Homo sapiens: one gene and its partner. The protein of the gene in region 2 purifies or fractionates together with the protein of the main gene of each other region. This does not show direct contact. Each region holds a gene or a part of one and is shown on either strand. Other genes may lie near its edges.

The links.
Region 1: the proteins of PPY (region 2) and DPY19L3 purify together in Homo sapiens (affinity purification with mass spectrometry; one large-scale study listed by BioGRID and IntAct). This does not show direct contact.

Annotation. Positions count from the first base shown.
Region 1 is NC_000019.10:32,478,770-32,482,269, forward strand, and holds part of DPY19L3 (protein C-mannosyl-transferase DPY19L3), read left to right. Parts: intron 1-1,629; coding exon 1,630-1,788; intron 1,789-3,309; coding exon 3,310-3,471; 3' UTR 3,472-3,500. UniProt on the Homo sapiens protein: C-mannosyltransferase that mediates C-mannosylation of tryptophan residues on target proteins.
Region 2 is NC_000017.11:43,940,304-43,943,629, reverse strand, and holds PPY (pancreatic polypeptide prohormone isoform 1 preproprotein), read left to right. Parts: upstream 1-1,153; 5' UTR 1,154-1,209; intron 1,210-1,355; exon of another isoform or gene 1,356-1,425; coding exon of another isoform or gene 1,426-1,443; intron 1,444-1,975; coding exon 1,976-2,166; intron 2,167-2,415; coding exon 2,416-2,487; intron 2,488-2,677; coding exon 2,678-2,702; 3' UTR 2,703-2,826; downstream 2,827-3,326.

The sequences.
Region 1 (3,500 bases), on a different chromosome or scaffold from region 2:
TGTGGCATATTTTATTTAGCCATTTCTGCTGTTTCCCTGTCTTTTGTGATTATATGAACAATGCTGCAGATAAACTTGTCTGCACATCACTCTTTCCAGGCACGGTGTCTGTCTGTACAGCAGATTCTTGGATGGGGAAGTGCTGGGTCAGGGTTGTTGACATCTGTAGTGTAGATCGAGAGATGTTATCAAGTCCTCTCTCTACAGGTTGTATCTGTTTACATTCAAGTCAGCAGTGCAGGAAGGTGCCTGTGTTCCTTCATCCTCACCAGTCAGGTTTCAAACTCATAAATGTTTCCTAATGTCACTTTTTTCATGTTGGCGGTTGAAAAGTTGTTGAAAAAGTCTTGTTTTGAGGTGAGATTTGACTAGCCTAAAAGCAGATGATTTTTACTAATCTCCTGTCTTGTATAAGAATCATTTGAATTCAGACTCCTGCTAAAATAGGAATTTTTTGATGGGCTGAAGTGTTCCAGATAGTTCCAAATTAACTAGGAGGATGCAGGAAAGGGGCTCCCTGGCTTTCCAGGCACCAGGTTCATCAGGGGTGGCCTCTACTGCTTGGACTGGAGACTGCAGAAAAGACAGGTCGAGTGCACAGAACGTCCTGGGCATCTCCTTTCCTGTCTCAGTACTAGGGTTAGGCCCCACACACTGACATCCTCAAGGCCCTACGGCTCTTCATCAGGACCCTGGAACCCTTGGAATGCCTTCAGCCTGAGACCTTGTGCTGGACTGTAGGACAACACAGTTGTCACAGTAACAGCATCCTACCTCCCTACCATTTCACCCATCCATGTGGACACATCAAGTTAGACCCTCAAGCCCAAATCAGAAATCTAGCACTCGAAATCAGGGTGCAACAAAGGAGGCAGTGCCTCTCTTCATGAACCCCCACATTCAACACCTCACACAGCCTGTTTCCATTCCAGCCCCAGAATCTGGGACGCTCAGTTTGCATCCATCCACTGAGGGTGTGTGGCACTGGTATGAACGTGAAGGGGGCCTCCTGTGGCGTTGCCCACGGTGTGCTGCAAGTGGCTCTCACCCCTAGGATGGACGAGAGGGAGAGGAGCAGTGGGGTCTCTCAATTAGCTGAGATGCGGAGTAGCAGGTAAAGCAGCCAATGCTGCCCCAGCCTAGGAGCAGAGACCCTACAGGGATCCTTCTCCCCACCTACCAGTTTCAGAAGCTGGGGCTCTGCCTTATTGGGACGTGTGTCCCTCAGACTGTCCCATCACCCTTAATGGGCCATTTTAGTCTGGGGGTCCCCTTTTTAAAGGTAGAGACTGTGTCTTATTTACTCAGCCCTGTCATTTACCTTGGGAAAGCAGTCTTAGAATTGGTGCCTACTGATGAATATAGTCCTGACTTGAAGTAATACATTCTGAATCCAGATGTGTTCTTCCTGGCTCACTCTCTTCCCAAGGCCGAGCACTCACAGCGTTCTGGGAACTTCCACGCACACACTCCAGGCCTGCAAATGAGCGAGTGCAGCGTGGCCTGGGCTGGAGAGAGCACCTTGGGTGTTAGGTCTTAGACTCAGCCCTGTGGAAGGTTACATCACATAGTTAACTCCCTGGCAGTCAAGTAGCATTTGCCACATTGCATTTTTATGTCTTTTTGAAGGTTTATCAGATATATGCCAAGAGGGCACCAGAGGAAGTGCATGCCCTCCTAAGGTCCTTCGGCACTGACTACGTAATCCTGGAAGACAGCATCTGCTACGAGCGGAGGCACCGCCGGGGCTGCCGACTCCGGGACCTGCTGGACATTGCCAACGGCCACGTGAGCATGCTGCCTCTCCCTGTGTGGGGGTCTCCTGGAGGGGCGGGACTCTGATTTGAATCCTAAGAATGTGAATCTTTTTATCCTTAATGTCTAGTTGAATTACGCTACGAATCAAGTATTTGCTTTTTCTCTTGCTTCCTACAGAAGCCCTCTCTTGGCACTTTAGTGACTGCCACCGGGGCTGGGCAAGGGAGAGGTGAGAGGGGAGCCCTGGGTCCCCAGTGTCACACCAAACAGAGCAGCTCTGCCTTCAGCTCATTTGTATGATGGGGCTCTGCATAAAATGTATCTGTGAAGGATTTTGCTGCTATAAACAAAACCTCAGCCTTTAAACCCACTGCTCCAACGCTTCGTATTGGCTAGCTGCTGCATGGCAGGGATGGTGGGGCCCTCCTGCCCTCCGGTCTAGGTGGTGGATTCCCCCTACCCCTCCTGCCCTCTCCTACTGAGTGTCCTGTGTCCACTGGTGTGTTTCCACAGGCCGGCTTTCAGAGGCTAAGTTGCACTCCAGAGCAGAAAAGCAGCAAGCCGCTTCTCCCTTCTCCCTTCTGAGGAAAGTGTTCTTGGAGCTATGCCAGGTCTCAGTAGAGCAAACAGATTTTCACCCTTTAGAGGTGTGATGTGTGCTGTAATTAATGGTATGAAAGCCAATAGATATTTGTAAACAAGTTGGACAAAGTGACAAACCTAGCCTAAATTTGAAAAAAAAAAATCTTGACTGTACAGAATTTGAGATTCAGATTTTTGCCCGAGGAGAATCATAGTTCATAACTGTCTTGAGTTCAGAGGTGGTACAGACCAGAGACATCCATTTAAATTTTGATTTGAGCGTGACTTTTTCAGTTATTTATTTATTTATTTATTTATTTTTAGAGACAGGGTCTCACTCTGTCACTCAGACTGGAATGCAGTGGCGTGATCTTGGCTTACTGCAGCCTCAACCTTCCAGGCTCAAGTGATCCTCCCACTTCAGCCTCCCAAGTAGCTGGGACCACAGGCATACATCACCATACCCAGCTAATTTTGTTTATTTTTTGTAAAGATGGAGTCTGGCTATGTTGCCCAGATGAGTCTCAGACTCCTGATCCAAGCGATCCTCCTGCCTCAGCCTCCCAAAGTGCTGGGATTTCAGGCATGAGCCACCACGCCTGGCCTAAATGTGACTTTTTCTGATGAGTTAGAGAGCTTTCTCTGATCACTGTAGTTCTCTGTATTTCATTTCTATGAGAGAGACAGTATAGTATGTTCCTGAGAGCAAGCAGACCTGAGTTCTAGTTCTGGCTTTCCCGTTAATGGGATCATCGTGTGACGCTGCACTCTCCTTCTCAGCCTTGGTCTGCACTTCTGAAGGGGGAAAAGGATGGCCCTGATGATCTCCAGGTGCCCATGGACATTGAAATAATATAATTTAATTTCACTCACATACCATTCTTAAACCCAATACCCATTCCTGCTCCTACTGTCTTTTGTAAATAGAATTTTCCCCCCAAATTGTATTTGGGTTTGTTTTGGTTTTAGATGATGGATGGCCCAGGAGAGAATGATCCTGATTTGAAACCTGCAGACCACCCTCGCTTCTGTGAAGAGATCAAAAGAAACCTGCCTCCCTACGTGGCCTACTTCACCAGAGTGTTCCAGAACAAAACCTTCCACGTTTACAAGCTGTCCAGAAACAAGTAGCGCAGATTTCTGCCCAGTGTCTATTTTTG
Region 2 (3,326 bases):
TGTCACCGTGTCATTCAGACACAGCCAGTTACCACTCCTTGGCCTAAGCAGGGGAGGGAGACTGGGGGTTGGGAAGAGACGCTGGGCAGGGGAGACTCAGGGGCTTCTGGTGGGGATGGATTAGTGGGGTTGAGAATCTAAGCCAGAATTCGGAACCTCGGTAGCTATGAGATCTTGAGCAAGCGTCTTTACCTCTGTGAGCCTCAGGTTTCTCAGCCAAAAAGTGGGAAATTATAACAATACTTTGACGGCCCCACTTAGGAAAAAAAACAGTCCAGGTTTGGAGTTAAATTTTGGGGTCTGACTGGCTGTGGGGTTTGGGGCCAGTGATTTGACATCTCTGAGCAGATTTCAGATCCTGAATCTGTAAAATGGGTTGTTGTGGGGATTTAGTGAGGTGACTGAGCTGGCAGCACTTTGGAAAATGTGAGGCTTTACAAATGAAGCTGGTTTTTAGCACTTCCCTGGAATGGGGGCTCTGAGATGGGGAGGGAAATGGATACTGGAAACCGGCACCCCCCTCAACATTTCCCCTGAACCCAGGCACATGAGTTCTCATTCTGCATCCTATGCACCCACCAAATGGGTTTCTCCAAGCCTGGCACCCCACTCCTTTCCACCTTGCCTGAGGACCTGAGGCCCCTTCCCTCTTCCCACCTTGTTCTAGTTGCAAGCTGCAGAGGATGGCCTGAGTTTCCATTCTTCAGCCTGGAGGCTCTGGCTGTAGCCTCAGTCTTCCAGCTGCAGCCTCAATCTTCTGCCCCAAGAGAATCCGTTGGATGATTTGGGTTGATCTTTGGGAGGCAGGAGAGCTAGTTCCAAGGCCTGTGACCAAAACCTTTCAGTCACTCTCGAGTCCCAGAACCCCATCTTTCTTGAACCAAGCCTGCTCTGGTGCCCAAAGGGAAGGGGTGTCAGTGATGGGGGCCCACAGGAGACTTTTACTGTGGTCCAGTTTTATCTGTTATGCTGCTGGTCTGGCACCCACAGAACTGCCCTGTCCCCCTCCCGTCTCTGGCCTCAGTACTGGCGTTGCCAGTATGAGGAGACAGTGAGAGGAGGGGTGAGGGCTTCGGAGTGAGAGAGGCTGACAGGAGGCGGGGACTCTGGGGGGCTGAGGACTATAAAGCGGCCCAGCCGAGGGCAGGGGCCCATCCGGCCTGAGGCAGGTGCTCGCTTGGTCTAGTGCCCATTTACTCTGGACTCCGGGTAAGTGGGCTCAGCCTGCCTGGGGCTCTGGGGGCCTCCCCCAGGCTGGGGCCTGGGATGGAGAGGAGGTGGTGCTTTGCAGGGCCAGGGGCCTTGGGAGGCCTAAGGTCCTGCTTGGGTCTTGCTTTCTGCATCTGGACAGACCTGTCACGCTAGAAGAGCCGTCTGCTGACTGCACGTGTGTGTGCACACTCGTGTGCATGGCTGTGAACTGGAATGTGTGACTGTGACCTTGTGAGTGACTGGGGTCCCTGTGTGAGTGCCTTTGCTGGTCTGTGCAGGACGACATGGACAGTAGCGTCTTCTCCAGGACCGATATCTGTGTCTCTATCGCAGGGTGGAGGGCCAGACCCACAAGGCCATGGATTTCTGTCCTTGGCTTCCCGAGTTCATTCTGTGTCCCCCACCCTGTGGGTGACCTGGCATGCCCTTATTCCCACTAGCTGCTGCCTCCTGGGAGCCATGAGGCCCTGGATGTCATGAGTCCCGTGTCTCCAGGACTCACATCCCCATTTTCTCTGCTATACTTTTCTAACTTGCGAGGCCCTGGCTTGCTGGGCTGCTCACAGGACAGGCTGTCCGTGCCTTCAGAGCAGTGTCTAGGAGGTGGAGTGGCCAGCTTGGAGTGGCCCTTTGCTCTGCCCCCTTGTCCCCAGGCTTGGAGAAATGGATGATGGGCTAAGGGGCTGGATAGTTGGGCCCTGCTTCCTGGGCACGGGAAAATCTGCAGCCCGGGCTCTCCACCTCCCCTCTGCTTGCTCCTCAGATGGCTGCCGCACGCCTCTGCCTCTCCCTGCTGCTCCTGTCCACCTGCGTGGCTCTGTTACTACAGCCACTGCTGGGTGCCCAGGGAGCCCCACTGGAGCCAGTGTACCCAGGGGACAATGCCACACCAGAGCAGATGGCCCAGTATGCAGCTGATCTCCGTAGATACATCAACATGCTGACCAGGCCTAGGTGTGTGCCACAGTTGGGGAGAGAGATCCCAGCCCCTGGGACCCTGGGCCCACTCCACATTCCTGGCCACACCCTATCCCCAGCCCCAGCCCCAGCCCCTTCCAGGCCTGCTCTTGGGAAAACAGGGCATCTGTGCTCAACAGGCCTAGACCAATGTGCCCTGGGCAAGATGGTGCCTACAGGCAGATATGAAACAGGTGGGCTGGCACCTGGGCACAGTGCTTGCCCCTGCTGCCTCTTCCCTCCCAGGTATGGGAAAAGACACAAAGAGGACACGCTGGCCTTCTCGGAGTGGGGGTCCCCGCATGCTGCTGTCCCCAGGTGAGTTTGACTCCCTGCCCTGTCTGTCCAGCTCCCTGGAGCTGAAATGGGGGTGGTGGGACTGAATCAGGGCTTGGAAAGGTGTAGTGGGGGGTGGAAGAGGGAGAACAGGAGCCCAGGGCCAGCCTGAGGCCTCCTGAGGGCACGAGGCCTACCCCCTACACTGCCATGTTCTGCCCTGTCCTCACAGGGAGCTCAGCCCGCTGGACTTATAATGCCACCTTCTGTCTCCTACGACTCCATGAGCAGCGCCAGCCCAGCTCTCCCCTCTGCACCCTTGGCTCTGGCCAAAGCTTGCTCCCTGCTCCCACACAGGCTCAATAAAGCAAGTCAAAGCCACAGCCTGTCCTGTGTCTCTGTGGACCCCTGGTGGGGGCAGCAGGAAGTGCCAAATGCATGGGAGAGAAAGGGGAGGGCAGGGCAGGGCAGAGGAAAAGGGGATCATCCAGAACGTTGGCGGGGGTCATCAGAGTCACTCAACTCATCCTCTCCCCTTCGCAGAGGGAAAAGTGGTGGCCAGAGGAAGGCAGGGACTCCTCTGAGCAGATGGTCCTTCAGCAAGTCTGTGAAGTGGCAGTCTTGAATCTTCCCAGTTCAGTACCCATAGACCTTCCCGACACAGCCTGATGACAACCCTTCCCCAAGTGCACCCCTCACCAGTGCCTTACTGCAGCCTAGGCAGCAGAAGCACCAAAATTTATACGAAAGCACCCTTGGCATGGGGGCAGGGGCACAGCCCAGCCTGGAAGAACGATTCTGGTGCTATGGCAGTCATGGCTGCATCCAGGGGCCTGAGCTGCCGTCCAGAAATTTGGAGAGAATGGGCTGCCCTGAGAGGT